Linked DNA regions of Homo sapiens: region 2 is linked to region 1. Evidence: fine-mapped QTL for protein levels in blood plasma. A gene starts in region 1. The other region holds a variant in brackets. All regions are shown on one strand. Distances are from middle to middle.

Region 1 (4,395 bases):
ATATCTGGCTTGTCACTCCGGTCTCTGTAACTTGCTGTGTTTTGTCAAGTGATTCTTCCAGAAATTTTGTGTATATTATCTTACTAAACTCTCATTAAAGAGGCCCCTCAAATGGAAGAAGGGAACTTAGAGTTTTTAGAATGTGAATAAATTTAAGGGACTTTGGCTTCTAGAATTCTGTAGATCTCTGTTTTGCTGGGAATATACAGCTTCCCATTATTCTGAGATTGGCTGATCTGTAATGCTGTGAAATATCAGTGTTTACTAAATTTGTTATTTTACATTTATGGGCATACATTTTTTTTTAATTCTCTCTCTCTCTTTTTTTGAGACAGGGTCTCCCTCTGTTACCCAGGCTGGAGTGCAGTGGCGCACTCATGACTCAATGCAAACTTGAATTTGCCTGGACTCAAGTGATCCTCCCACCTCAGCCTCCCAAGTAGCTGAGACTATAGGCATGCACCAACATGCCCAGCTAATTTTTGTAATTTTTGTAGAGATGGAGTTTTACCACGTTGCCCAGGTTGGTCTTGAACTCCTAGGCTCAAGCAATCTCCTAAAGTGTTGGGATTACAGGCATGATCCACTGCTCCCAGCCTTAATTCTTTTAAAAAGGGGAAAAATGAGGTTTTTCACTATTGCTCCAATCACCATCATAGCTAAATAAGTTAATGCACATAGTTAAGAAATGTACAGTAGAGAGAAAACAATCTGTGTTGTATTTAGAAACTAGCAAGAATTAAGGACTAATAATATCTGAATATGAACTGGTATTAAGCCCAAACTACTGCATCAGGAGACCATCAATAAAATTTATTTATCGAGAGCCATTCATTAGTCAACCAAAGTCGTGGGAAATTTAATCTGTATAAGGAGTCATAAGGCATAAGGGATAGGTATGAAGGATTGTTGAGATGATGTGTTTTATTTCGCTAATAATGCATATGACACCATTCCAATTTTTTTAAATTTAAAACAACAATCATTTATTTGCTTGCTTCTCAAGCCTGGGTAATCGTGTTTGGCAATGAGACCTTGTTGCATGCTTGCTAATATCCCACTGGTCAAAGCTAGTCAAATGGCCAAGCCTAGAGTCAGCGTGGGAGAAGGCCACACAAGGGTTTGAATTCTGAGGACGAGTCTCTTTCATTGAAGGCCAAAGAAACAGTCTACCTCAGAGGGTTGCTGGGGAGCTATAATGCAAAGAATAAACCTCACCCTGCCTTCAAGGCGCTCACAGAGAAGAAATCTTTTGAATATTAGTGAAGTTTTCCTGGACATCCCAATGGATAGATGTGAGGGACAGTCACGTACTCAGGACATCTGTTTGCTTATGGTGTTATGTTACAGATGTCACAAATGAAAATCAGAGACATGTAGCCCTGAGCCCAGTAACTATAAAGCGGTCTAGCTGAAGCTGGAGCCCACAAGAGGGCACTTTGCACCATGATGCACGCTTGTTTCTTGCCATCAGCTCTGCAATGAGTTCAAGCTAATGCCATGTCCCAGCCGTCCAGTTGTTTTATGACTTGTGTGATTGAAGCATATGGTGGCTTGTGGCATGTTCTTAGGCAAACCACTCACCTCCCTAGGTTTCGTTTTCCTAATTTCTCAAACAAGGGAGTTAGATTAGGTGGTCTATAGTTCCTTCCAATTGTGATATTTCACTATATAACAATATAGTTATAATAGATCATAGCACATCTGTAATGAAAAAAAGTGAGTTCATTTCTTAACAAGTACATTTACTTAACTAGTTGGAGTCATTAAAGCAAATTAAGAACGAAATTCTTAGTTAATCTGAACTTTTCTGGGCATACTGATCTGTTCCCTAACGCGTCTGACCGTGGAAAAGTGGATCAGCAGGAGTGGGACTGGCTCTCAGCTTTGCCATGTTTGGCTCTTTCTCTGCTGTGAAACTCAGTTTCTTCCTGGATCAAGAGGTTAATTTCTGCCGGTGTTATTTTACAGTGTTGCAAAGAGATAAAAGCCAGACGAAAGAAGGGAAAGTACTTCAGCTTTGATTAGGGATTTTTTTTTCTGTCCCTGTGACCATACACTACTCAATTCTGACAGCTTCGCATGAGTCTAGCAGAAAATTGAGGGATTCACTGTTATTCCTTAACTTGCAGAGGTCCAGACCCGCCCACATCAAATGGTGAGGTCCCCACTTTCAACTTTAGCTGTTGCTAAATCTGTGACCCTTTCAATGAAATCCAAGGATCTCAGCTTAAAAAAAGTTAAAATAAAATAAAAACTAGGTGTTTTTCAGAGGCGGTTTGAAACGCCTCTCTGAGGTTGTCAGAGATTGTTTTTGTTTTCTCCCTTTGCCCTTCTTGGAATGCACCAAACATAAAAGCATTTTTTTTCAAGCTTTACTTTCACTTTCGAGAGTGCCGTCTATTTGCCACACACTTCCCTGATGAAATGTCTGGATTTGGACTAAAGAAAAAAGGAAAGGCTAGCAGTCATCCAAGTAAGTGAAGGTGTTCATTTCACGTTCTTACTGGGCAGGGTCTCTCTTGCTGAGTAGAGTTTGCTAGCAGAATGCATGTGGTTTTAGCCTTCTTTGGTCTTTCTTTGATCTGGTGCTTGAAATCTAGTCAGAATTATTCAGGAAGGAAAGTGGAAGAAAAGGGATATGATATGGGCATGGGAGAAGGGTATAACTCAGAACACAAGTAATAGCACCAATATCTAGTTAATGTGATAATGTATTTATGCAGTATTTAATTTTTTTCTCTGTAGCATTCTGTACCTGGAAAAAACACATTAGGGAAGCTATGGAAATCATTTTGCAACAGTCTTTTTAGCAAATCACATCTTTGCCTTAAAGAAACAAAACTCCAAGAGGTTAAAAGAGCGTATCCCCTTTTGTTAGTTTTATTGGCTGGAGGGGAGACAGGAGCTGGCATTGTATGACAATGTCTTAGATAGGAGAGAACATTCAGGTATGCCTAGGAGTAAGTAAATGGCTTTCTTTCACCTAATGAAGGATAATGGAAGAAGTGGAGAAGTGGAAAGTTGTTAAGGTGTATGGGAAGATCAGAAACTGGTATCGGCAATTGTGGGGTACTCGGGTAAAAATGGAGTTGGCTTCAGCAAGTTGATTCCCAGGTTTACAGATGATTACGTGCTGGTATGTGTCTTCATATGGGCGTGCCTGTGTATGAACCTACTACAAAGGTTGCAAAGTTTACAAATCAAACTATGGATAGTGGTTAACTCCAGGTAGTCTGCCTCCAGACCCCATGTCCTAACCATCAGGCAATATTGTCTCTCACTTGGACAAAGAATGTGAATTCCATGTGCCCTCACAAAATATTTCCAAAATTCTAAGGCTGAGTGAGTCTCTTTTTAATTTTTTTTCATTTTCTTTATTTCTGCTAGATCTCATTCAACAGCAACGTTTTCTTCACTCTCATTTCATCCTTTAACTGCATTTTTGCTTGTTTTACTGAAGCATGTCCTAGAATAACCTTTTCATACAGATCGTATGGCTATAAACTTACTGAATTTTTGCATATCTCAAAATACTTATACCTTTTTATTTAGTTATTCAGATGGATGTGAAATTTCCCTATCTTATTTTATTTTATTTTATTTCATTTTATTTCATTTATCGATTTAGAGACAAGGTCTCGCTGTGTTGCCCAGGCTGAAGTACAGTGGCATGATCGTGGCTCACTGCAGCCTTGACCTCCCTGGCTCAAGCAATTCTCACACCTCAGTGTCACGAGTAGCTGGGACCACAGGTGTGAACCACTATGGCCAGCTAATTTAAAAAAAAATTTTGGTGGAGATGAGGTTTCCCTGTGTTGCCCAGGCTGGTCCCAAACTCCTAGGCTCAAGGGATCCTCCAGCCTCAGCTTCCTAAAGTGATGGGATTACAGGCATGAGCCACAGGTAATTTTCTTGGCCTGGTCAAAGGTAATTTTCTTGTTTTTTAGAGGTAAGGTCTTGCTCTGTTGCCCAGGCTGGAGTGCAGTGGTGTGATCATGATTCATTGCAGCCTTAACCTCCTGGGCTCAAGCGATCCTCCTGCCTCAGCCTCCCAAGTAGCTGGAACTACAGGCTTGTGCCACCACACTTGGCTACTTTCTAAAATATTTTTGTAGATACGGGGTCTCACTATGTTGCCCAGGCTGGTGTTGAGCTCCTGATCTCCTTCTGCCTACACCTTCTAAAGTGCCGGGATTGTGGGGATGAGCCACTATGCTTTGCCTGGATATGAAATTTTAAATTCAAAATAATTTTCTCTAAATGTTTGGAAAGCTTATCTCTATTGTTTTCCAGTGGTTCATGTTACTGATGAAAAGTTTTTTATTAATCAAGATCTCTTTTCTTTGGAAATGAAGGTTTTAGGATTTTTGTGTGCATGGTTGCAATTCTGAA
Region 2 (4,395 bases), 14 kb after region 1:
GCAAGGGTTGCAGGGAGCTGAGATCGCACCACTGCACTCCACCCTGGGGGACAGAGCGAAACTCTGTCTCAAAAAAAAAAAAAAAGAAAAAGAAATCAGAGCCCTTTACTCCTCTGGCGGTTTCGACTGCCTGCCGGAACTGGCCTCCATTCTCTCTGGATTCCTCCTCTCCCACCTGCTGTTCTCTTGTCCCCGAAGTGAGTCCCAGAACAGCCAAGGCTCTGGTAAGGGTGTAGGACGGAGCAGAAGGGAGCTGGAAAAACACGATAGTAAAAGAAAGTCAGGAGAAAATCCGGGTGGAAAGACGAGAGGGAGAGCTAGAGCTCAGAGTTCCAGAAAGGAAAGTGTGCCGTCACCGCCTCATCATAAAAGCCATCCACAACTTCCTTCCATGAGGCTCACTGAGAACAGCGGCACCAAGACACAACCAGGAACTGCCCCAGGAGTGACTTCACGAGCAGTTTATTCATTGCAATTGTTCTCATGGTGATAAAGAAAAAGTACCAGGAGATGGATCCTGGACTGGAAGGTCAGAGAAGCCTCCCTGAAAAGGTGGCATCTAAGCTGAGGCTGTGAATGCTGAGCAGAAGTTAGCCCGTGGCCAGGGGAGGTCAGAGGCTGGAGTAAGAGGTGGGCGCTGCAGGAACCGAGTAAGGAAGGACTCGTGCATTACAGGAAGGGGGAGAAATGCTCTGCCCATGGGATGTGGTGAAGGGTGAGCGGAGATGGAGTAAAGAACTGCATCTGGCCGGGTGCAGCGGCTCAGGCCTATAATCCCAGCACTTTGGGAGGCTGAGGCGGGCGGATCATGAGGTCAGGAGTTCAAGACCAGCCTGGCCTACACGGTGAAACCCCGACTCTACTAAAAATACAAAACTTAGCTGGACGTGGTGGCGCATGCCTGTAATCCCAGCTACTCGGGAGGCTGAGGCAGGAGAATTGCTTGAACTGAGGAGGTGGAGTTTGCAGTGAGCTGAGATTGCACTGCTGTACTCCAGCCTGGGCGACAGAGCGAGACTCCGTCTCAAAAAAAAAAAAAAAAAAAAAAAAAAAGGCTTTCAACAGCATTACAGAGTCTGTGTTCTTTTGATTGTTAACCTCTTTTTTTTTCCTACCTTTAGTTTTCTCCAGGGTGTTTTCACGCAATTGGAAGATTATTTGGCCTCTTTCTGAACAATGTCCAGCTGGGTCCCAGCCTTACAGAGAAGCTATGTTTGGAATTAGCAAACACAAGCATTCGGAATCTGTCTCTGAGTAACAGCCAGCTGTCCACCACCAGCAATACAACTTTCTTGGGACTAAAGTGGACAAATCTCACTATGCTCGATCTTTCCTACAACAACTTAAATGTGGTTGGTAACGATTCCTTTGCTTGGCTTCCACAACTAGAATATTTCTTCCTAGAGTATAATAATATACAGCATTTGTTTTCTCACTCTTTGCACGGGCTTTTCAATGTGAGGTACCTGAATTTGAAACGGTCTTTTACTAAACAAAGTATTTCCCTTGCCTCACTCCCCAAGATTGATGATTTTTCTTTTCAGTGGCTAAAATGTTTGGAGCACCTTAACATGGAAGATAATGATATTCCAGGCATAAAAAGCAATATGTTCACAGGATTGATAAACCTGAAATACTTAAGTCTATCCAACTCCTTTACAAGTTTGCGAACTTTGACAAATGAAACATTTGTATCACTTGCTCATTCTCCCTTACACATA[C/T]TCAACCTAACCAAGAATAAAATCTCAAAAATAGAGAGTGATGCTTTCTCTTGGTTGGGCCACCTAGAAGTACTTGACCTGGGCCTTAATGAAATTGGGCAAGAACTCACAGGCCAGGAATGGAGAGGTCTAGAAAATATTTTCGAAATCTATCTTTCCTACAACAAGTACCTGCAGCTGACTAGGAACTCCTTTGCCTTGGTCCCAAGCCTTCAACGACTGATGCTCCGAAGGGTGGCCCTTAAAAATGTGGATAGCTCTCCTTCACCATTCCAGCCTCTTCGTAACTTGACCATTCTGGATCTAAGCAACAACAACATAGCCAACATAAATGATGACATGTTGGAGGGTCTTGAGAAACTAGAAATTCTCGATTTGCAGCATAACAACTTAGCACGGCTCTGGAAACACGCAAACCCTGGTGGTCCCATTTATTTCCTAAAGGGTCTGTCTCACCTCCACATCCTTAACTTGGAGTCCAACGGCTTTGACGAGATCCCAGTTGAGGTCTTCAAGGATTTATTTGAACTAAAGATCATCGATTTAGGATTGAATAATTTAAACACACTTCCAGCATCTGTCTTTAATAATCAGGTGTCTCTAAAGTCATTGAACCTTCAGAAGAATCTCATAACATCCGTTGAGAAGAAGGTTTTCGGGCCAGCTTTCAGGAACCTGACTGAGTTAGATATGCGCTTTAATCCCTTTGATTGCACGTGTGAAAGTATTGCCTGGTTTGTTAATTGGATTAACGAGACCCATACCAACATCCCTGAGCTGTCAAGCCACTACCTTTGCAACACTCCACCTCACTATCATGGGTTCCCAGTGAGACTTTTTGATACATCATCTTGCAAAGACAGTGCCCCCTTTGAACTCTTTTTCATGATCAATACCAGTATCCTGTTGATTTTTATCTTTATTGTACTTCTCATCCACTTTGAGGGCTGGAGGATATCTTTTTATTGGAATGTTTCAGTACATCGAGTTCTTGGTTTCAAAGAAATAGACAGACAGACAGAACAGTTTGAATATGCAGCATATATAATTCATGCCTATAAAGATAAGGATTGGGTCTGGGAACATTTCTCTTCAATGGAAAAGGAAGACCAATCTCTCAAATTTTGTCTGGAAGAAAGGGACTTTGAGGCGGGTGTTTTTGAACTAGAAGCAATTGTTAACAGCATCAAAAGAAGCAGAAAAATTATTTTTGTTATAACACACCATCTATTAAAAGACCCATTATGCAAAAGGTAGGTAAACATTGTGAAATTTTAAGTGTGTACTTGCTTTTCAATTAAATTTCTTTTTTTTTTTTTGAGATGGAGTCCTGCTCTGTTGCCCAGGCTGGAGTGCAGTGGTGTGATCTCAGCTTACTGCAGCCTCCACCTCCTGGGTTCAAGTAATTCTCCTGCCTCAGCCTCTCAAGTAGTTGGGATTACAGGCACGCGCCACCAAGCCTGGCTAATTTTTGTATTTTTATTAGAGATGGGGTTTCACCGTGTTGGCCAGGCTTATCTTGAACTCCTGGCCTCAGGTGAGCTTCAATTAAACTTTTAAATATTACCAATATTACTCACAACTCAAAGAATTTTTAAAATAAAATTAAGAAAAAAAAAACCTGAGTTTCAGTAACAGTTTAAACTCTACAGAGTATTTTTAAATAGTATTGCTTCTGGCTGTTAAAAACCGTATATTAATTCTTCAATACATTTTTTTACTTAGATTCAAGGTACATCATGCAGTTCAACAAGCTATTGAACAAAATCTGGATTCCATTATATTGGTTTTCCTTGAGGAGATTCCAGATTATAAACTGAACCATGCACTCTGTTTGCGAAGAGGAATGTTTAAATCTCACTGCATCTTGAACTGGCCAGTTCAGAAAGAACGGATAGGTGCCTTTCGTCATAAATTGCAAGTAGCACTTGGATCCAAAAACTCTGTACATTAAATTTATTTAAATATTCAATTAGCAAAGGAGAAACTTTCTCAATTTAAAAAGTTCTATGGCAAATTTAAGTTTTCCATAAAGGTGTTATAATTTGTTTATTCATATTTGTAAATGATTATATTCTATCACAATTACATCTCTTCTAGGAAAATGTGTCTCCTTATTTCAGGCCTATTTTTGACAATTGACTTAATTTTACCCAAAATAAAACATATAAGCACGTAAGAACATTGTCTACTGATTAATATACAATCAGCCACTGAGCCTATGACAGCTTAAGGAGTTTGAAAACATTCCTCATTTTAAGAAAAGTTAGAGGTATATGAGGGTTTGTGATGATCTTTTTGTATTTTGGATGCACTTAGAATGAAAGATAATTGTTTCAATGGGTATAATGCTATTTCCTTTGTAAAAGAGTAAAATATATACCCATATTTTTAACAAGTTTAATTACAGTATTTTTTCAATGGAAAAACTTTGTATTTTAGTAAGTACTTGTCTCAGTGTTGACTTTGTTAAATGTTAAATATTTTTTAATATACATACCCAAGGGCAGAAAACATTTGCAATTCATTTTTATTAGTTAATGAGATGATTATTTGAATGAATATTGACTTGTATTTTCCTGAGATTATGAGTTTCTGCTGTGGGAGGGTGGAAACAATTCTCTTACTAAAAGTATTGTAGGCAGGCTTGCTTTCTGAAGGCTAATCACTATTT

Alleles and levels. Alleles are on the strand shown, and positions count from the first base shown. The strength of an association depends on the size of the effect and on how common the allele is.
With allele C in place of T in region 2, the plasma level of the protein whose gene starts at base 2,384 in region 1 is higher (strong association).

Evidence for each region. PIP is the chance, under the fine-mapping model, that this variant and not a neighbour inherited with it causes the effect. Protein levels are from antibody-based Olink assays in UK Biobank. Linkage for the fine-mapping came from a reference panel and not from the study's own genotypes, which makes the PIPs less certain.
Region 2: its variant is fine-mapped to the plasma level of the TLR3 protein (UK Biobank, PIP above 0.99). The variant lies in the coding sequence of TLR3. If it changes the protein, the assay may bind it differently, which can mimic a change of level.

The regions. Positions count from the first base shown.
Region 1 is chr4:186,066,773-186,071,167 of GRCh38, forward strand. TLR3 (toll like receptor 3) reads left to right here and starts at 2,384. Exons shown (of 5, transcript NM_003265.3): 1 at 2,384-2,476.
Region 2 is chr4:186,081,199-186,085,593 of GRCh38, forward strand. It overlaps TLR3 (toll like receptor 3), which reads left to right. Exons shown (of 5, transcript NM_003265.3): 4 at 1,122-2,974; 5 at 3,447-4,395. The coding sequence ends at 3,675. Among named protein-coding and RNA genes, the nearest start is that of TLR3, 14 kb to the left of the region's middle. The variant C/T (reference allele first, on the strand shown) is at 1,722.